Linked DNA regions of Homo sapiens. Changing the gene in region 1 together with any one later gene gives a genetic interaction. Each region holds a gene or a part of one and is shown on either strand. Other genes may lie near its edges. The genes, in order: GCK, PNMT, CSF3R and ITGB7.

What was found.
Region 2: changes in GCK (region 1) and PNMT together harm fitness less than expected from each alone (positive genetic interaction), as found in Homo sapiens cells (one large-scale study listed by BioGRID).
Region 3: changes in GCK (region 1) and CSF3R together harm fitness more than expected from each alone (negative genetic interaction), as found in Homo sapiens cells (one large-scale study listed by BioGRID).
Region 4: changes in GCK (region 1) and ITGB7 together harm fitness more than expected from each alone (negative genetic interaction), as found in Homo sapiens cells (one large-scale study listed by BioGRID).

What each region holds. Positions count from the first base shown.
Region 1 is NC_000007.14:44,185,800-44,191,333, reverse strand, and holds the start of GCK (hexokinase-4), read left to right. Parts: upstream 1-1,894; 5' UTR 1,895-2,380; coding exon 2,381-2,425; intron 2,426-5,534. UniProt on the Homo sapiens protein: Catalyzes the phosphorylation of hexose, such as D-glucose, D-fructose and D-mannose, to hexose 6-phosphate (D-glucose 6-phosphate, D-fructose 6-phosphate and D-mannose 6-phosphate, respectively).
Region 2 is NC_000017.11:39,666,258-39,671,404, forward strand, and holds PNMT (phenylethanolamine N-methyltransferase), read left to right. Parts: upstream 1-2,195; 5' UTR 2,196-2,218; coding exon 2,219-2,420; exon of another isoform or gene 2,421-2,764; intron 2,765-3,371; coding exon 3,372-3,579; intron 3,580-3,693; coding exon 3,694-4,132; 3' UTR 4,133-4,218; downstream 4,219-5,147. UniProt on the Homo sapiens protein: Catalyzes the transmethylation of nonepinephrine (noradrenaline) to form epinephrine (adrenaline), using S-adenosyl-L-methionine as the methyl donor. Other substrates include phenylethanolamine and octopamine. Also methylates normetanephrine.
Region 3 is NC_000001.11:36,479,130-36,484,732, forward strand, and holds the start of CSF3R (granulocyte colony-stimulating factor receptor isoform a precursor), read right to left. Parts: upstream 3,785-5,603; 5' UTR 3,682-3,784; intron 2,409-3,681; 5' UTR 2,349-2,408; intron 952-2,348; exon of another isoform or gene 858-951; intron 388-857; 5' UTR 368-387; coding exon 304-367; intron 1-303. UniProt on the Homo sapiens protein: Receptor for granulocyte colony-stimulating factor (CSF3), essential for granulocytic maturation. Plays a crucial role in the proliferation, differentiation and survival of cells along the neutrophilic lineage.
Region 4 is NC_000012.12:53,190,194-53,194,801, forward strand, and holds the end of ITGB7 (integrin beta-7 isoform a precursor), read right to left. Parts: exon of another isoform or gene 4,152-4,608; coding exon 4,005-4,151; exon of another isoform or gene 3,709-4,004; coding exon 3,515-3,708; exon of another isoform or gene 3,171-3,514; coding exon 2,947-3,170; exon of another isoform or gene 2,718-2,946; coding exon 2,498-2,717; exon of another isoform or gene 2,346-2,497; coding exon 2,137-2,345; exon of another isoform or gene 1,827-2,136; coding exon 1,666-1,826; exon of another isoform or gene 1,539-1,665; coding exon of another isoform or gene 1,506-1,538; exon of another isoform or gene 1,444-1,505; coding exon 1,363-1,443; 3' UTR 1,130-1,362; downstream 1-1,129. UniProt on the Homo sapiens protein: Integrin ITGA4/ITGB7 (alpha-4/beta-7) (Peyer patches-specific homing receptor LPAM-1) is an adhesion molecule that mediates lymphocyte migration and homing to gut-associated lymphoid tissue (GALT).

The DNA.
Region 1 (5,534 bases):
CACCATACCCAAACCACCATCTCCCAGGACCCGGGAGAGCAGAAAAGAGGAATGAGAAGAAAGGCGAGGATGTGAGGTGTGCCCTCATAATGGCGGTGCACGCAGCACAAGCAATTGCAGAAAGACTAAAGTACTGAACAAATAGAAAACTTGGAAAAATATTAGAAGGAAATGTGGGAGAACATTTTTGCAATTTGGGGATTGGAAACGGTTTTCTTAACAAGATATAAAAACCCCAAAACAAGAAAACAAAGGTTGAAATTCATAAAAACTAGATACTTCTGTATGATGAAAGACACGATTAATCAAGTTGTTAAGTTTAGCAATAGACTAGGGGAGATATCATAGTATATTTAACAGACAAAGGATTAATAGATACTACAGATGAAATATAAAATAGTTTCTCCAAGTCCATAGGCAGAAGATAATCCAATAGCAACATAGTTAAGTAATGTAAACAAATCATCCTTAGAAGAAGAAATGCAATCACCAAGAAACACATGAAAAGGTGTCCAGCATTTTGCAATTCAAGCAACAATGAGGTGACAGATCGGCAAAAAACTCATAAAGATTTATCATCTGAAGGATTGGCCAAGATAAAGCCAAACTTCTCGTGTTGGCAGAAGAAACTGGTGAAGCCATGTGAAGAGGCCACGTGGTCCTGCCTACCAAGATGTAAAATGTGTACAGCATTTGAACTAGCAATTCAGCCTCCAGGAGCCATCCAGAAGAAACACTGACACACACTTAGACTCCGGTGAAATTCAAGGACTTCTGCCACAGCCTGCTTCGTAATAGTGAAAATCTGAAACTGCCTCAATGACCGTCAATAGGAAGTTGATTTTAAAGTGTTACAGCACATCTGTCTGGAGAGATCGCACTGGCCACTCCTCCTCACCCCCTCTGCTGGACCTCTGAGCGTAGGTGGCCTGGAGCTGGGTCCTGAGCCCTCTTTGGTCTATACCGACACTACCCAATATGGTAGCCACCAGTCACGCTGGACACTTGAAAAGTGGCCGATCCTGACTGAGAAGGGCCACGAGTGGGAAAAACACACCAGACCTCAGTGACTTAGGCAGAAGTATGTTTTGTTCCAGACTATTGACTGAGCCCGCAGCTGAGTTGGCTCCAGCACCCTGGCCCCCTGCTCCATCCACTCACTGGGACTCCCCACTGCACAGGGCAACCTCTCCAGGGGCACTTGGGCTGCGAAGGGGAGAGTGGGTGGCATCCCAGGCTGAAGCTTCCTGAGCAGGGCCAGAGGAGGAGCCAGTCCCTGTGGGCCTCTGTTCTGACAGTGTCAACCTCAGCCAGGCTTGTGTGGGCCAGGTGTACTGTTCTGGTTCAGATTTCAAGGAGATAGTCAGGGCAGGCCGCGCCAAAGCCCTCCGATGGGCTCCCCTACTGCCTGGCAGACCTGTCCAGCTTTGGACTCTGGCCCTGCGACCTGGAAGTCAGGCTGCCAAGAGGTCCAGGCAGTGGCCTCCACTGTGGAGGGTCTCTGGAGAGTTTACAGCCCTAGATAGGGGGGTTAGGGATGTGAGATGGTCCCAGGGGCCTGCTCCTGAGCCACGCCAAGCTGCCTGCTCCCTTTCCTCTGCTTCCAGACTCACGGGATCCTCTGCTCATCAGAACAGGAGTGTGGGAGACCCTGAGACACTGCCCCAGGATCTGAACAGGTGGCAAAGGCTTAACAGGCTAGCGGTCACTGTAGTGACAAGGCGATTGAGTGGTCACCATGGTGATGGGGATGGAGGCTCTTTGCCACCAGTCCCAGTTTTATGCATGGCAGCTCTAATGACAGGATGGTCAGCCCTGCTGAGGCCACTCCTGGTCACCATGACAACCACAGGCCCTCTCAGGAGCACAGTAAGCCCTGGCAGGAGAATCCCCCACTCCACACCTGGCTGGAGCAGGAAATGCCGAGCGGCGCCTGAGCCCCAGGGAAGCAGGCTAGGATGTGAGAGACACAGTCACCTGCAGCCTAATTACTCAAAAGCTGTCCCCAGGTCACAGAAGGGAGAGGACATTTCCCACTGAATCTGTCTGAAGGACACTAAGCCCCACAGCTCAACACAACCAGGAGAGAAAGCGCTGAGGACGCCACCCAAGCGCCCAGCAATGGCCCTGCCTGGAGAACATCCAGGCTCAGTGAGGAAGGGTCCAGAAGGGAATGCTTGCCGACTCGTTGGAGAACAATGAAAAGGAGGAAACTGTGACTGAACCTCAAACCCCAAACCAGCCCGAGGAGAACCACATTCTCCCAGGGACCCAGGGCGGGCCGTGACCCCTGCGGCGGAGAAGCCTTGGATATTTCCACTTCAGAAGCCTACTGGGGAAGGCTGAGGGGTCCCAGCTCCCCACGCTGGCTGCTGTGCAGATGCTGGACGACAGAGCCAGGATGGAGGCCGCCAAGAAGGAGAAGGTATCTCGCCCTCCATTGGGCATTCTGGGAGTGTTTGCTTGCCTGTCCCCAACATTCCATGGTTTGTTTGAGCCTCAGAATCTGATTTTATGCACAGGCTCTTTGAGAAGGGTCTTGCCAGGGGTGCCTTCTGGGGCAGGAAGGCCCCTACTGCCTGGCAGACCCATCCAGCTTTGGACTCTGGTCCTGCGACCCGGAAGTCAGGCTGCCAAGAGGTCCAGGCAGTGGCCTCCACTGGGGAGGGGCTCTGGAGAGTTTAGAGCCCTAGATGTGGGGGTTAGGGACATGAGGTCTTGTGGACAAAGCCCACTACCTGATTTTGAGACAACACTCACTAGACATGGTGACAAGTCAAAGATGCCTTGCCTCCTACCAGGAATCACTTCGCAGGGAGCCCGAGGGCTGCTGTGGCCTGCTGAGGAGTGCAGGGCAGTTACTTTTTCCAAAAACAAAGAGAAATCCAGGCATGCTCTGAGCCAGCCCTGAGCCCAGCAGTGAGCAAGGAGAGAGCTGGAGACAGGGGACTTTGCTGTGAAACACTGGGGGGAATGTGCCTGCATCACCCCAGCTGGGGGCCCAGGCAGAGTGGGGGAGAAGGGGTAAGTGGGCAGAGCCAGTCACTTTGGGCATGCTTCCCTCTCGCCTCTGTGTGAAATGACCAGGTCAGCATAAACCCCGGGCTGGCTGTGCTTCTGGCAGAGCTAATGATGTTAGGAGGAAAACAACCAACCCAAGTGAGAGGGTGCGCAGCCAGACAGCTGGACCGGCCGAGGCCCCAACCAAGTCCCAGATCTGCCTGTCACTGGTGCTATGGCAGCAATTTGGATGAGAAATCCTGCCCAAAGGGCCCCTTCAGGCCACCCGGGGAGAAGGAAGCGGCTGTCTTTGGCATGACCAGAAAGATGGCTCGGAGCTAGGGAGAGGTGGACATGTGGGCTGTGGAGATCTGGCACTTTCCCCAAACAAGGAGAGAAAGCATAGTGTGCCTATGTGTGAATGTGCTATGTGTGCATGTTTGTGCCTGTGCATACCTGCATGTGTACATGCATGTGCACATATGTGTGCACAGGGAATCACTTTAATAAAGGCCACAGCAGAGCTGTCCCTGAGCCCCTTGCATTCACAGTGGCATGTGAGTGAACCACCTTCTTAGGCTGGGCATCCAGTCTCAGACTCTGGGGCTGCCCATGCCCCATCCTTTATCTGCTCCACGTGTGAGGGGTTGCTGGTCCTGACCAGGGCCAGCTGTGAACCCCAGAATCCTGGGAAGTCACTGACATTCTTGTCAGGGCCAAGAGTGGAGCAAGGCAATGCCTCGGGCACAAACTTTAAGGGGTCACCAGAAACATCAATCATCAAGATATATGCTATTTTAAATAATCAAAATGAATGCAAAAAAAATTTATGATGGACAACATACCAAATTCTAAACAAAGGCAGGATGAGTATCACTGGCTTCTGCACTTTTCTCCACCCAGTCTACCCCTCTTCTAGTGCCTGGATCGCAGGGTGCCAAGGCCTGGATGAGGGAAGCGTGGAGCTGCAATGGCCACTCCTGTCTGCCTGTTCTGGCTGCACAGAGGACTCAGTCCTTGTCTTGGGGGAACCTATCTTGGTTTTAGGGTCATCCTAAGGATCTGATGTTTTCCAAGTGAGCTGGCTGTCCAGGCCCACCCAGGTTCAGTCCAGTCCTGTGTCTCTGGGAAGTGCTGCCCCTACCCCAAGCCAGTGTTTGACCTTGGAGCAATGAGCAATGCCCTCCTTCCACTTTCAAAGTTGTCCCCAAGACGTCAGCTGTGGTTGTCTCTGTGCAGACACCGAGGAGGAACTGTCTTCTTTCTCCTTTTGGTTGCTTTGGAGGAAAGTAAAGTGTTGCTGGTTTCCCTCTTTCTACTTCTTTGATTGAGAGCAGCCGTCTTGCCGGTACCAACCTTCCAGATCTTACCTGTGGTTGCAGGAGCCTGTGGCCTCAGTCCTGTGCCCAGTGACTTCTCCATGTGGATGTCAGCTCCTTAGGGGCAAGCCTGATTCCACTGACACTACTCCCACCCCTCATAAGCCCCTTCTTACCAGCTGCAGTTGCCTGGTACCCCACCATCGCTGACTCATTCCTTTGGCATCAAGGTTCATCCCTTACTGGGCCACCACTTCTGGGTGGCCTGAAATAGGGCCCTGGGCATCCCTCTTGGGGACCTTTTGGTCTATATTTTCACTCTCACCTCACTAAGGACAGATGAGTAAATCTGGTTAACTTTGCCTGATAGATTTGGTGACCTTTTTTCAGGAAGGAGCCTGGAAAGATGAGATTCAGGTGTATTGGTCAGCTTAGACTGCCATAAGAGAATACCATCCACTGATGGCTTAGAAACAACAGAAATCTATTTCTCACTATTCTAGAGGCTGGACGTCCAAGATCAGATGCCAGCATGGTCAGGTTGCAGGGAGGGCTCTCTTCCTGACTTGCAGACCGCCACCTTCTTGCTGTGTCCTCACATCGTGGAGAGAGAGTGAAAACAAGCTCTCTGGTGTCTCTTCTTATAAGAATGCTAATCCTATGATGGGGGCTCCCCCTCCTTACCTCATCTAAACCTAATTATCTCCCAAAGGTCTCATCTCCAGATACCATCACACTGGGGTTAGGGCTTTGACATATGAATCTGGGGGGACACAATTCAATCTGTAACACCAGGAGGGCATGCCGGGAGGAACTGACCTTCCTCCCTCCAGCTGCCCTGGACACCTTTGCCCCATTGAAGGAGCAGGCTCAGAAGTGGAATGAGGATGGAATAAGGTGCACTCCATCATGCTTACCCACATCCCTGGCAGGAATTGTCCTGGGCCCCAGCAGGAGAGATGCCCCCCCATACTGCCATGGCACCTGCTCTGAGACAGGTGTGCAGAGTGCAAAGCTCCAGGTGGCCCCCAAGCAGGTGTGCTGGGAGGAGGGGCCCGTGTGGGAGGAGCAGGCAGCGCCAAGGCCTAGCGGAGCAGTGACAGGTCCCTGACTTCAGGGAATGGGCACGCTGTGGGCAGGCAGCTGGTGTGGGGGTGAGGGCTGGGGCTGCATCTGTGGGACCAGGGCTGGGCCATCCATCATATGCCGTGTCAC
Region 2 (5,147 bases), on another chromosome or scaffold:
TGAGCCCCCTGAGTTCCCAAAGGGAGGGTGGCAGAGACAGTGGGCACTAAGGGTGGAGAGTTGGGGGCCAGCACAGCTGAGGACCCTCAGCCCCAGGAGAAGGGACAAAAGGTACTGGTGAGGGCAAGAGGTGCCTGGGAGGAGTGGCCCTGATCCAGGAAAATGTGAGGGGAATCTGGAACGCTCTAGGCAGAAGAAGCTGGGAGGGAGGGGGAGGTGAAAAGGGCAGAGGCAAGGATGGTGGGGCCCCCAGCACCCTCTGTTAGTGCCGCAATAAATGCTCAATCATGTGCCAGAGTTGCATCTCTTTCCTTGTGGTTGGGGGGGCTGGCCCATGGGTGTCCCCTCAATGCCCACTTCTGGGACCAGGCTCCGCATCTGAGCTAAATATGGCAGAGCTAATGGGTACACCCCATACTTGGGGTGGGGGTGGGGGCAGGACAGAGCTGTAAACAGGGTGCTGTCTCCAGTCTCCTTCCCGTACCCTGACCGCTGCCCAGTCCTGGCTTCTGTGTCCAGCCCCCTGGCACTGGGTGGTAACCAGCAAGCCAGCTGGCATCCGCATCCAGGGTTTGTTTCAATGATGTCTCGTGGAGAATATGGAGGGGCTGGTGCCAGGACTGTCCTTGGCTTTGCCTCGGGGTGTGAACGGGGTCAGTGACCTCTAAAACTAACCTGCCTCTCAGTTCTGAATCCAGACAGAATCAATCCTCAGCTGTGTCTCGCTCCACACCCCCTGCCCTGGAAGCCAGGGAAGGTTGGAGGTGCTAGGGGGTCAGGCTCCCCTCTGTGACCCCTGCAGCTGTTGTGGTGACTCATGTCCCAACCTAGCTGCCTCTCCCAAGGAGACTTTCCCCTGGGGACAAGGGGGAGGGAATGGCATGGAGGAGGCCCACATCAAGCGGGGCCAGGAACCCACGGTGGCAGGAGCTGGGCTGGTGACCTACCCAGGGCAGAAGGGCCCGGGACTCATCCAGAGGGGAAGGAAGGGGTCTTCAGGAAGACCACGGAGATGCCACAGGCAGAATTGGCTTCCCATCTGGGAGATAGGTGGGGAGACCCTGGCATTTTGACAGCCAGAACCTGGGGTGCTGAGCAGAATCTTCATGCCTGGCCTGGCCGCTCCTTCGGAGGGAAGCTGGAGGGTGGGCTGCGAGAGGAGTGGGGTCAGAGCCCCTACATCCGCAGGACCCCAAATCGGCTGGGCCCCAAGGCCCGGACTGCGCTCCCCGGTGGCCCCGGCGGCCCTCCGCGAATGCGTCCTGCCCCTCCCCTGCCCAAGCCCTCTGCCCTCACCCGGGTCCGGCGCCGCCCCCGAAGTGGCGGGAACAACCCGAACCCGAACCTTCTGTCCTCGGGAGCCCCCAGATAAGCGGCTGGGAACCCGCGGGGCCCGCAGGGGAGGCCCGGCTGTTCCGCCCGCTAAGTGCATTAGCACAGCTCACCTCCCCTATCGCGCCTGCCATCGGACGGGCAGTGCCGCGCCCTGCTCTGGGGCCCCCGGAGCGACCACAGCGGAGGCCGGAACGGACTGTCCTTTCTGGGGCGGGGTGGGGAGGGGGTGTCGCTGGAGGGCCCGGTGGCATAGCAACGGACGAGAGAGGCCTGGAGGAGGGGCGGGGAGGGGGAGTTGTGTGGCAGTTCTAAGGGAAGGGTGGGTGCTGGGACGGGTGTCCGGGAGGGAGGGGAGCCTGGCGGGGTCTGGGGCCTCGTCGCGGAGGGCGCTGCGAGGGGGAAACTGGGGAAAGGGCCTAATTCCCCAGTCTCCACCTCGAATCAGGAAAGAGAAGGGGCGGGCTGCTGGGCAAAAGAGGTGAATGGCTGCGGGGGGCTGGAGAAGAGAGATGGGAGGGGCCGGCCGGCGGGGGTGAGGGGGTCTAAAGATTGTGGGGGTGAGGAACTGAGGGTGGGGGGCGCCCAGAGGCGGGACTCGGGGCGGGGCAGGCGAGGCGGAGGGCGAGGGCTGCGGGAGCAAGTACGGAGCCGGGGGTGTGGGGGACGATTGCCGCTGCAGCCGCCGCCCCACTCACCTCCGGTGTGTCTGCAGCCCGGACACTAAGGGAGATGGATGAATGGGTGGGGAGGATGCGGCGCACATGGCCCCGGGCGGCTCGGCGGTCAGCTGCCGCCCCCACAGCGGACCGGTCGGGGCGGGGGTCGGGCGGTAGAAAAAAGGGCCGCGAGGCGAGCGGGGCACTGGGCGGACCGCGGCGGCAGCATGAGCGGCGCAGACCGTAGCCCCAATGCGGGCGCAGCCCCTGACTCGGCCCCGGGCCAGGCGGCGGTGGCTTCGGCCTACCAGCGCTTCGAGCCGCGCGCCTACCTCCGCAACAACTACGCGCCCCCTCGCGGGGACCTGTGCAACCCGAACGGCGTCGGGCCGTGGAAGCTGCGCTGCTTGGCGCAGACCTTCGCCACCGGTGAGCGGGGGAAACTGAGGCACGAGGGACAAGAGGTCGTCGGGGAGTGAAAGCAGGCGCAGGGAAATAAAAAGAAGGAAAGGGAGACAGACCAGGCGCCTAACAGATGGGGACCAAGAAACAAGAGATAGCTGAGAGGTGCAAACAGAAGAGAAAAAAGAGCAACATCCCTTAGGAGAGGGGCAGAGGAGAGAGAGGTGGAGAGAGGGGGCGGAGAGTGCTCAGAATTGAGAGCTAAGGTGGGGGATGCAGGACAGACTGAGGTGGAGATGCATAGGAGGAAATGGAGGCAGATGTGGGACAGGGGTGAGAAACTGCCAGGATTTCCTCGCTGAGCCTGGCTGGTAGGTATAGTTGTTTTCTTTCTTTTTCTTTATTTTATTTTCATTTATTTACTTATTTTTATTTTTTATTTGTTTTGAGACGGAGTTTCGCTCTTGTTGCCCAGGCTGGAGTACAATGGCGCCATCTCGGCTCACTGCAACCTCCGCCTCCCCGGTTCAAGCGATTCTCTTGCCTCAGCTTCCCTAGTAGCTGGGATTACAGGCATGCGCCCCCATGCCTGGCTAATTTATTTGTATTTTTAGTAGAGACGGGACTTCTCCATGTTGGTCAGGCTGGTCTCGAACTCCCAACCTTAGGATCCACCCACCCCGGCCTCCCAAAGTGCTGGGATTACAGGTGTGAGCCACTGCGCCCGGCCAGTAGGTATAGTCTTCTAGATGTGAAACCTGAGTCTCAGAGCGGTGAAGTTCCCTTCCGAAGGGCAGCCCATGTTGGAGCTGGGTTCAGTCTAACTCTGGGGCCAATGCTTTTTCCAGATGGAGACACATTTGCAGAGGAGAAGGAAGAACTAGAGAGAGGCAGGGAGATGCAGGGGAGGGAAGGGTAAGGAGGCAGGGGCTGCCTGGGCTGGCTGGCACCAGGACCCTCTTCCTCTGCCCTGCCCAGGTGAAGTGTCCGGACGCACCCTCATCGACATTGGTTCAGGCCCCACCGTGTACCAGCTGCTCAGTGCCTGCAGCCACTTTGAGGACATCACCATGACAGATTTCCTGGAGGTCAACCGCCAGGAGCTGGGGCGCTGGCTGCAGGAGGAGCCGGGGGCCTTCAACTGGAGCATGTACAGCCAACATGCCTGCCTCATTGAGGGCAAGGGGTAAGGACTGGGGGGTGAGGGTTGGGGAGGAGGCTTCCCATAGAGTGGCTGGTTGGGGCAACAGAGGCCTGAGCGTAGAACAGCCTTGAGCCCTGCCTTGTGCCTCCTGCACAGGGAATGCTGGCAGGATAAGGAGCGCCAGCTGCGAGCCAGGGTGAAACGGGTCCTGCCCATCGACGTGCACCAGCCCCAGCCCCTGGGTGCTGGGAGCCCAGCTCCCCTGCCTGCTGACGCCCTGGTCTCTGCCTTCTGCTTGGAGGCTGTGAGCCCAGATCTTGCCAGCTTTCAGCGGGCCCTGGACCACATCACCACGCTGCTGAGGCCTGGGGGGCACCTCCTCCTCATCGGGGCCCTGGAGGAGTCGTGGTACCTGGCTGGGGAGGCCAGGCTGACGGTGGTGCCAGTGTCTGAGGAGGAGGTGAGGGAGGCCCTGGTGCGTAGTGGCTACAAGGTCCGGGACCTCCGCACCTATATCATGCCTGCCCACCTTCAGACAGGCGTAGATGATGTCAAGGGCGTCTTCTTCGCCTGGGCTCAGAAGGTTGGGCTGTGAGGGCTGTACCTGGTGCCCTGTGGCCCCCACCCACCTGGATTCCCTGTTCTTTGAAGTGGCACCTAATAAAGAAATAATACCCTGCCGCTGCGGTCAGTGCTGTGTGTGGCTCTCCTGGGAAGCAGCAAGGGCCCAGAGATCTGAGTGTCCGGGTAGGGGAGACATTCACCCTAGGCTTTTTTTCCAGAAGCTTCCTTGAGGCTAGCATTCTGTACCACTCATTCTTCCCAAACTAAGGAAGGCCAAGGTCAGGGGAGCTCACCGGGCACCTGCAGTGCACCAGGCACTTGTGATATGCCATTGTGTCCATCGCATCATTCATTCCTGCATTCAGCAGCAGGTCCTGCTAGTCTGTTTCCAGGTGAAGCTCAGAGAGGTGAAGTCACAAACAGTGCAGACTGCTTCAGACCAGAACGAGGGAGAGTGGGGATCATGAGGAGATGGAAGTAGAATCTGCAAGGTGGTGGGGAGGTGGGGGTGTTATGATTGAAGCACAATGGCCGAGGGAAGTGAAAGGGAAAGAACTGGCTCCAGCTCCCTCTCACAACTGGACTTGAGTTCTGCCCAGCTCTGCCTCTGGGGCCTGCCATTCCCCATGCCACGTGCCCAGGCAGAGACCTCACCTCTGTTTACTGCCTCCAGCCAGCTCTGGGACCTGCCCCTGCCGCCACAACTGTCTTCTCCTGCCCTCCAGCCCACCCTATTCACACAAATGAGCTGAACAAGGGCAGGTGAGGCTTGGAATTGATTTATTAAGCACATCCCTTGCCACCCTCCCACCTTAAAAGTTTTCAGTATCAAAAGAAGCTAGCGCAGGCCACCCGAGTCCCTGAGGTTGGAGTCCTAGCATAGCTCCCCTCCCTCAAAGAGGGACAAGGGGTCAGGGGCAGAGCAAAAATCCAGTCTGCTTCAACCACGGAGACTGCCTTTGGGATGGAAAGTTTCTGGAGCTCCCTCCATTCTATTCCTGTGGGGCAGGAACATGCCAGGGCTGCTGGTAAATGGCAGGGGTCAC
Region 3 (5,603 bases), on another chromosome or scaffold:
AAGGCTGCATAGGACCCATGGGTTGCTTCTGACAGCTTGGTAGAGATTTGCGGACAAGATCTGCGCCTCACTGGCCTTTTCCAGGATGACCAGCCCGGGTCGTCTCACCATTCCTCTTGGGTGGTGGTTTGCCTGTGGAAGTCTGTGGGTGGGAGACCAGCTACCCCACATCTGTGGCTCAGACTTGAATCTTGTGGGATTCTCTGGGAATCCCAGGAGCCATGTGGCAGTGCAAGGAAATTCCCAATATCTCTCCTTGTAGCTTCCCCTCCCCACTGCACCCTCATCCTTGGCCATACTCACTTCCGGGGAGCAGCAGGATGATCAGGGCAGCCCAAGTCAGGCTGCAGTTTCCCAGCCTTGCCATAGCACCAACTTGATGTTCACCTGTAGGCAGAAGGGTTGTTTAAGACCATGGGCTTTGGAGTCAGAGCTGATCTTAATCCTTGTCTGTCACTGTGCAGCTTTGACTAGGTTGCTTGACTTCTCTGAGCCTTCGTTTCTTTGCAAAATGGAAGTAACAGCAGCCTATACTGCATGGGACTTTGAGAGGAAGACACAAAATGATGCAAGTCAAGGGCTTTTCACAGTGCCTGGAACATAGGAAATGACAGTGACAGCCACAGTTATTATACTTGCCTTCCAGGAAAGAGCAGGGAAAGGAGCAGTGAGGAAGAGCATTCTTCCGCCTTCCCAGCTATCTAAGCTAGGCTACCCCTAGAGAGCAGAACCTGAGATGAGGAATTGCATGCTGGTAGTTTATTTTGAGAAGATCCTAGCAGCAGATAAGGGACTGGGGAGAATGAAACAGGGAAGGAGAGAAAGCCAGCACAAAGTTACATCATCATGTTGGTCACCTCTATGGACAACTGGGGCTCTATCCTGCTGGAACCTTCCAAAGAGCCATGTAGAACACTTCTCAGAGCTGTCCACTGGAGGGTCAATTTATCCCTTGGATGGGAGGGAAGATGGAAAGATTTACCCACTGACTCCTGCCCCCCATTGGTCAAGGGATGCCTCTTGGGGTGTTCATTCCCTGGCACATCCAGGTTGGGCATGCATGAGTACTAGGCAGGTTCTCCTGGGGAAGCCATGCCAGTGTTGTCAGGGACACTCCCTGGAAGAAAGGGAGAACTCTATGGAGCAGCTGAGGCAAGGGGCTGTCAGGTTATGCCTGCAGGAAGCTGGCTGCCTCAGCCATGTGGGCTGAGAGAATATCAAGTGGGGCACCCGAAGGGTCCAGTGTGCCCCCAATTTTGGGCACAGACCTCTGGTGGCCTTCTGGGGTCAGGCATCATGAGGTCACGGCCATAGCACCTGGATGGAGGGTGCCTTGGCTCCAGTCTTAGGAAGTATGCAGAGGTTTCTACCACTTGGGTGGGTGTCCAGCCTCATCTTCACCCTGCTCCCATTGGGGTCTTGGAGCCAACACCTGATCCTCCAGCACGAGTTGGTGCTCTTGGTGGCAGATCAGTGGGAATCGCTGGTCAGCTTGCACGTACATATCTGGACACATACACGCAGGTGGTGTCCCAGCAGATCCCTCGTGCTCAGCAGGGAGAAAGGTAGGAGAATCCTTTTCTCTTCCTCCCAGACAGAGGTGTGGATAAGAACTGCCCAGATACCCAAGGTTGTTACTGCTCACAGGGGTCTTACCCAAACCCCCAGTCTATCCATGTATATATTGCAGTATCGGAATACCCAGTGACTGCTAGCCCGTAAGTCTCCTTTGTGCAAATCAGAAAGAAAGCACCCCTTCCTCTGGATGGATGCAGCACCACACTAGGACCTGGCAACTAGGGAACAGCCTGGATTTCGGCTCCAGTTACTCCTCAGTTTTGTGCAGTGAGAAACCTGTACAAGTATCCCGAGCATCTGTCTACCCATCGGTGGTTGGTAACCTTCTTACTATAGCATACCAGTTTGATTATCCCCCCGCAACACTGGTTGGGGAAGATTTAGCCTCCAAGGCCCAGATTTTGGGACACTGGTTTTCATCTCCATGTGCTTTTGATCCTATCCCAGCCCTGTTGCCCTAGCCAGGGTCAGCTTCAGGCCCAGCCTATGCCCCGTGCAGTACCACCCTATCCGCCTCCACTGGCTCCTGTCCAGAGTAGACAACCTAACCCCAAGAGGCCCCGGCATCCTTCCCCTGGGTGCTGGGTGTTGGCCTGCTTGGCCTCAGTCTCTGGTCCTCCACTGCAGCCCTGGACGTCCCCCAGCCTGGTTAAGTGGGCCTAGGACCTGTTGGAGCATGGTCTCACTCTCTGGGGGGCCGATATGCAGAGAGGTTTGGAGCCCAGCTCAGATTCAGGTCACCTGACTTGATCTCCAGCTCCGCCACTTACCAGCTTTGTGATCTTGGACAAGTTACTTCACCTTTCCGAGCCGAGCCTCAGTTTCCCCATCTGTGGGAAAGAAATAACATTAGCACTCACTCCTCAGCGTTGTTGTGAGGATGAAATGAGATTATTTTGGTAAAGGCATTTAGCCCTGTGCCTTGCATGGAGTTGGCACTCAGCAACCATAGGTTATTTTCACGAGCCATAAATAGCAGGTCAGCAGCTCACAGAATCCAGCACAGTTCAGTTTTCCCCTCACCCCTGCCTCCCTCACAGCCTGTGTGGTCACACCTCCCAGGACTGCCACCTTGCTTTTGTCTGTGCCACACTGCGCAGTTCCAAAGCCCCCTTTCTGGATCCTCTCCTCCTAACTCCTGGGCCCCCTGGCCCTCCTGTCACTGCGGCCATCTCTGCTGGGCTCTGCAGGTGCTCACTCCTGTGGCCCAGCACAGCTCGATGTCTCCTGGGCTGGCTGCCTTCACATTCCCTCTTTCTGTTTCTCCCTCATCACGCTCAGCCCTCTCCCCTCACACTCTCTTCCCCACTTCACACCCCTCGCTCCCTTGCTGTTTCTACTCTCACCTCGAGATTCTTTCTGTGGGAAGGGTGGGGAGGGAGGAGGGGGCTGGGAATAAACAGAGGGGAGAGGCATTTCCAGATATGCTGCAGATAAAGAAAAAGAGAGAGCAACAGGAAGAGTGACAGAGTGAGGCGGTGACTGAAATCCACACAGACTGAAACGACAGAGAGACTCGCCAAGAGGACGATTGAGGCCAGAGAGATATCGAGAGACAGAGAAAAAGGGCCCAATGTACGCCGACCCAGAGAGTGGGCGGGGGGGGGGCACTCGGAGGCCTGGAGCCCGGGAAGCGTCTGTTACCGAGAGTTTAAGATTCAAGAGATAGCAGGAAATATGCGAGACAGAGAAACTCAGAGAGATAGCAAGCCAGAGAGAAGCTGAGGAGGAAAGATGGAAACAGAGAGTGAAATAGAGACCCAGACGGGGAGGGGTTGCGCGGCTGGAACTCACAGACACACACGTCCTGAGAGACAGAGGCATGGGGAGGGGAGAATGATTATGCCTGTCCCCAGCCCAGCTCAGTGTCCCCAAGGAGATACTTGGCTGTGAGTGACTTCCCTGGTGCAATACCCCCAAAAGTAGGGGCATCCTGTGAAAAGAGACTCAGTGTCCAGGGCTGGGGTTCCAAAGGACGAATCCCGGGCCCCAGGCCTAGGACCCCGGACATGAACACTTGGCAGAGCTGTGGGGAGTGGCCCCAGGATTCCAGCTCTCCATCAAGCCCAAGGCTCAGCCCCTCTCTAGGGATCCCCTACTCACGTTGGCACCTCTGGCCCAGCCCCTGCTTGGCCTCCTTGGTCTCTCTTCTCGTCAAGAGAAGTTCCTGAAACCAGCTGCAGTCCAGCTTCTCTCCCCGAGCTCTGTCGTTAATGGCTCAGCCTCTGACAGGCCCGGGGGCTGGGGATTGCAACACCTTCCGAGCCTCCCTCCTGCCCTCCCTTGCGCCTTCGAGGGCACAGGCAGCCCCTTCCTCCCAGGAAGGAGCCTGTGAGGGAAGCTGGTGAGGCCCGGGCAGCCTTCCTGCCTTGGGGGTCTTAAAGGGCTGGGGAATGTGGCAACGATGTCCCCCTCCCCTGCCTCCGGATTTCCTGAGCTCAAAGCTTTGAGGCTGGGCAGGGCCCAGGCTCCCACCTGGCTGGGTGCCATCCTTATGCCCCCTGCCCTGGGGGAGCATCACTTGGAGGCAGGCCCTGGCTGGAAGGCTCACCCGGCCCTAAGCCTCTTTTCAGCTCTAGCCTTGGGGACCACATCTTCACAGTACTCAGAAGGGTGTGTTCCAGGTTCCAGGGAATTGTGTAACCCAATACTCACTGCTCCCCTCTTCATTACGTATTCTGTGCATTGCCCATAGACCAGGCAGATGGAGAAACAGGAATTCTGGGGGCAAGACAGGAGGACGTCTTGGTGAGGCACGGGGTCTTTATATGTTCACTAAAAATTAGGAATGTTTACCCACAATGGTTCTGCAACACTGAATATTTTGTAATTGAGTGAAATAGACTACATTTTATGTCTTTTATTGTCTGTATTCATGATTCTTCTAAAACTACAAATAATTTTCTTTGCATTTTCTGAGAAAGGTTCAAACTGCTCATAGTTTATTGGATTCATAACCCAAAAAAGGTTAGGTGCCAACAGACCAGCAGACTGTCCTTAACATATAATCCTTTTGAGGCATCTGGGTCTGGTGTGATGCTGCAGACCAGGGCTGTAGTTCTAGTTCCAAGTCAAATGACCTGACTGCCTGCTGCAACCCTCCCAAGATATCCCACAGGCTCTGCTCGCTCAGTGAGTCCCATGGACTCTCTTCTTTCCAAATATAACCAGAATCCTGGGTATTCACTGTAAAGTTCAACTTGGCTCTACGTTTGAATATTTTTATGATAATATTTGGAAAATATAAATATAACTGAAACCAATACTAGCCAGCTCCAAGCTACCCTCATCTATTGCCTAGATAATCGCAATAGCCCCCTGCCTGCTCTCCTGCTTCTATTTCATCCTTGTTCCCGCACCTGTCTGTAATTCCTTCAGCAGCCAGTGCGATATCAATCAAACAGAAGTCTGATCAGCCCATCCTCGTCCCAACCTTTCCAATGGCTCCTGTCTCATTCAGAGTCAAAGTCAAAGCCCTTTGGATGGTCTACAAGGCCCTACAAAACCTGGTATCCCTGTTACCTCCTGGATCCCTCTCCTGTTATTCTCCCCCTTGCTGCCTTGCTCCAGCTACTCTGTGTTCTTTGCTTCTTGAACTTGTTATGCTGTCTCTTGCCTCAGGGCCTTTGCACTTGCTGTTTCATTTGCCTGGACTCTTTCCCCCGCAAATAGCTACATGGGCTGGTCCCTCCCCTTCTTCAGGTCTTTGCTCAAATGTCACTTTCTCATTGAGGCCTTCTCTGAGCACCCTTTTCAAAATTTGCAAGCCCCTTCCCTCCCACTCCCTATCTCTCTCTCCCCCAAATCCCTTTTCACCATCTGATATTGGCTGTCTCAATCCCCACTAGACTGAAAGTTCCATAAGAGCAACAGTTTTTATCTGTTTTGTTCAAAACTTTATCTCCAGTGTCTATAACACTGCTTGCCACACAGTAAGGCCTCCATGCGTGTTTGTTGAATGAATGATCAACTGGATGAATCTTCCCCCACTTCACCAAATCTGTCTCTAATCCCCACGTACCTTG
Region 4 (4,608 bases), on another chromosome or scaffold:
AGTGATTTGGCATCCAGAGGGCCCGGGAGCCCCACGGATACCCCAGGGAAGCCACTGACTCACACCGCTGCAGAGGCTCCTGGGCCCAATGCCCGACCCCTGCTGGCCAGCATGGGGCCTAGCACTGGAAGATGCCTCAGGTGTGTTTGGAGTGGGGGAAACGGAAGTAGGGCACGCTCTCAGAGACCAGGATAGAGAGTCAGGGAACCTGGGAAAGAGTAGTGCCAGTTCCGGGTAGGCTGCTGCACCAGGCCCTACCAGCTCAGGCTATAAACAGTCTGCTTTGCCCCAAGTCTTTTCCGTCCACCCCCAACAGCCTTGTCATCACTTAGCTACTGATCACGCCCATGGCTTGACATTGGAGGGTTACATTAGTGGAGTCCGCCACAGCTTCGAACCCTCTCCCCAGATGCCCTTTGCCTCTGCTGTGGCCCTGGGGTTTTATCAACTGTCCCCTTCCTATCCTCCTCTCCACCCTGTTTTTTGTTTTTTTTTTTTTTAAATAATATTTTGCTATGGGGGAGGGGAATATCAAATGGACAAGATCACTTTTAAATGGTAGTTTTTATAAGATGTTATAAACTTGTATCTTTTTACCATTAAAGTGCAGTGTATGTTCCTTCGTGATATATTTAGGATATTTAAATAAAAGGAAAATGGGGCTTTTCTACATACTATCTCCTCTTTGGGGAAGCTTTTTCATACTGGTTTTAGTTGTTTTCCTTTTTTCTCCCTACATAATCACCCCACAACTTCCAGCACCCTATAAGCCATTTTAAAACCCCTTCTCCACAGAGGAACAAGCAAGTAGGAGCAAAAACAGGGCATCAGTTCTGAGCAAGACGAAAAAGCACACGCAGCAGGACGGAAGGAGGCTAGACACCAACAGATGCAGTGTCTCTGACCTGGGACCCCCCTGCATCCGCAGCACTTGAGAATTCATAGGCCCTTTCCAGACCTGGCTTCCTGGGTCCCAGGGTGCACCCCGGGAGTTTCCTGCACATTCGCGCTTGGGCACCTCTCCCTGCCCTCAGGTGGCAAGAGGAGGATGGACAAGAGCTTTCCCGAGGCCCAGGCTATAAACAGTCTGCTTTGGCCTTGATGAGGTAAAGCAAAGTGACAGCTGTGGTCTGAGGTAAGACTTTATTGTATACTTGGGTGGGGTAGCCCAGATGGATGCAAGGTTGCAGGCATGGGAAGCAGCCCTCTTGGGTGTCACTCTGAAAATGAAGTAGGGTGGTGGCCGCACCTCGCCAGTGAATTAGTCCCCTACCAAGGTCTTACAGACCCACCCTTCCTCTCACCCTCCAGTTCCCACTGTCCTCCAAGGAGAAGAGCCTTGGGTAAGTGTCCCTCCCTCCTTCAGAGAGTGGGACTGTCTGCCTCTTGAAAGCGAGGATTGATGGTGGTCGTGATGGCACTTTTGTAGAGAGGATTACTGTCCTGGAGAAAGATGTTGCAGATTATAAGCAAAAATCCCAGGATTCCTCGTCCCCTTTCTAGACCTAAGAGGCCAGCCTTGAGCCGAATCCTAGGAGCTGATGGAAGTTAGCAGAGGGGTTGGTTACATGTGCCAGGGGCTGGGGGAACCCAGTGGGAGGAATCAGGGCTGGTCTTGTGGTGGGGGAACAGCTAAAAAGGGGCCTAACCAGGAAGTCTCCTCACCTGCTTCCAGTTGAGTTGTTGCTGCTCCTTCTCAAAGCGACTGTATTCCCGGCGGTCATAGATTTCCACCGAGAGCCGGTAAGCCAGGACCAGCCCCAGCCCCACTGCCACGATGCCCCCTACGCAGCCCAGCACAATGGCCTGCGTGTGGTCTGCTCCCTCTGTGAACAAGAAACCAGACACACTTGTGGGAGCTGGAGCATAGGGACAGATCATCAGTTGCTCACAGTGTGTCCAGCCTGTCCAACCCTGTCTGTCACTGAAAGCAAAGGGAACCCAGGGAGGTCCAAGGTTATCCTCACCGCCCAGGGCCTTAGCCTCGTCCACTTGCTCAATTGCCTCTGCCTTTGTCCTGGATTCACAGTTCTGCTTCAGCCCCCAGCCTGTTTCCCATTATCTTCACTCTGCATCCCCAGAGTTGAGACCCTGCCCATCAAACTTCCAGGGTTTGTGGCATCCCTGCCCACTTACTTTCTTGGGGTCTCACTCTGAGCACGACCGTGCCTCTGGCGTCATCCTCCACCAAGAAGAAGAACAGCTGGTTGTCCAGGGTCCGCTCTTTGCACCAGCCATCATCCAAGATAGGGGCCAAGGCCAGGGTCACATTGGTATGGGCACAAGCTGTACTGCAGTTGGTGGCCAGTGGGCCAGTCCTGAAGGCCCCACACTCTGCACAGTCCCTGTGTAGTAGATGCCAATAGGTTACCAGCTGGGCAGTTGTCACCCAATGCCCCTTGCCCAACTACAAGCAGGACGGAGAGTAGGCAGATGGGAGTAGCTCAACAAGCCCCACTGTGCCCCTGCTCCCAAGATGCAAGACCTGAGGCCTCACCGGTGTCTCTCGCATGGTGTCTTGCAGCCTGGGCATTGGTCGCATAGAGCACCATAGTAGCCGTCCAAGCACTGGCAGCGGTTGCATTTGCAGCGTCCATGCCCACTGCAGAGCCCTCCCTCGGGACTGATGCAACTGTCCATGTCCCCACTGCATTCGCATGCTCTGCCCGTGCGGTTGGCATGACAGTGACATACTCCACATTGGCAGCGACCAAAGCCTGGGGTAGAGCCATGCAGAGGGTGACAACCATACTCCACACACACAGTTGGCCATCATGTGGCACGACAAGCCCACGCATCCAATCTTTTTGAAGTATGCCAACCACACCCTCTAACCCATACACCGGAATCTTTTGATATTTGCCTTCCATGCCAGGAGATTCCCAGAGCCTAAGTGCCTTGGGAAGGCCTCTCAGACCCCGCCCTTCTCCCCAAGGCTCCAGGTACCTCCGCAGAGGATGCCCTCATGTCGCTCACAGCTGGCATCGTCACACTCGCACAGATGCCCAGAGCTCTGTCCACTGCAGCTGCAGCGTCCACATTGACAGTGACCCTTTCCACTGCACAGGGGCCCTGTGCCATTGGGAGCCCGGCACCCAGATTCCAGGTCTGGGGAGGACAGCTCTGCCACAGAGCACTCACAGAGCCGACCTAGGCGGCCAGGGGCACAGCTGGAAGGGGAAGGCAAAGGAGAGAAGTAGGTCAGAGGGTTTGATCACCCCTGACTTGTCTCTCCCAGGAACCTCTAAACCCAAGTTCTCAAAAGAGTTGGAGACAGACAAACAGCTGAAAGGATGTTAAGTATAGTGAAACACTGAGGGGTGAGAGAGTGGAGGGAGCCCCAGTCAGGGGGAGGGCCTGGACATACATGGGAAGCTTCAAGGGATGAAACTGAGTGGGGAGTCGGGATGTCGAGGAGACTCCTGTGGGGGGGATGGAAAGCAGCGGAGGAATACGGGCCAGGGTTGGTTGGTTGTTGGGAGCCAGGTGGTTGAAGGGAAGAGGAGGCCCTCACCTGCATACACCACATTGTAGGTGTCCCTGGCCATCACTGCAGTGGGGAGCCTGGGGCTGGGTGTCACTGCAATTACAGTCACACAGCGTGTGCAACTCCACAATCAGCTCCTCTGAGAAGCCAAGGGCCCGGAGCCTCAGGAGATGGGGCTCTGGGAGGCAGTGGGTGGCTTGGAGAGAAACCCAGAAAGTCACCTGAGAAGAGGCAGGAATCAGGCCATGGTTATACACATGCACACACACATACCCCAAACTCACCAATCATCCAGAACCTCACCCCTTAGTAAATGAAGGGATGGGGTCATGTTAACACCCAACTCCTAGAAACATGCCTGAGGAAGCCACTCAGACTGCTCCAGGAAGGATGGATGGAGGACTACCTCAGGCTCTCATGTCACTCCCTGTACCTGCCACCCATCTTTTCCTGCCTGCTTAATTTCCCACTCCCACCTCCCCCTGCCCGCCTTCTGCCTGTGCTTGCTGGCTCTCACCGTCTGGTTGATTCGGACGTGGTTGCACTGTCCTCGATCCTCAGCCTTACCCTCCCTCTTCTCAGGACCCTCACACTGGGATTCGTAAGAAATGTGGACCCCAGGAGGGAGTGAAGAGTGTTCAAGGGTCACGGTGGAAGACAGGCTCTATGGGAAGAGAGCGAGTGGATAACCACGTGAAGGCAGAAAAGGACTCCAACCCCACCTTATGTCCTCTCCAGGTGTTCCCAATTCTGCCAGCACCCTGCCCTCTGCCACCTGGGGCTCCTTCCATTCTGCCCAGTCGAGGCATTTCTGGAGGGAGGACCCGTGAGAACCTTGCATAGAACATACAGGATCCAGAGGCCTCTAATACAGCATTTCAGTGCAGCTGCCAGCAAGGGCCACTGAGGGTCACAGGCTGGCCAGGTGCTGTAAATGTACAGAGACCATGTTTGTGAAGCCCCACATCAGGACACATAACCTGGGTGCATGCCAGGTCTAAAGGGCAGATTCATTACAGAGTTTATCTTGGGAAATTTGATACTGTCTCAGATTTTCTTGCCATAGGTTTAGGAGATGCTCCCTGTTATCAAGAAGCCTACAGCCTAGTTGCAGAGGTAAG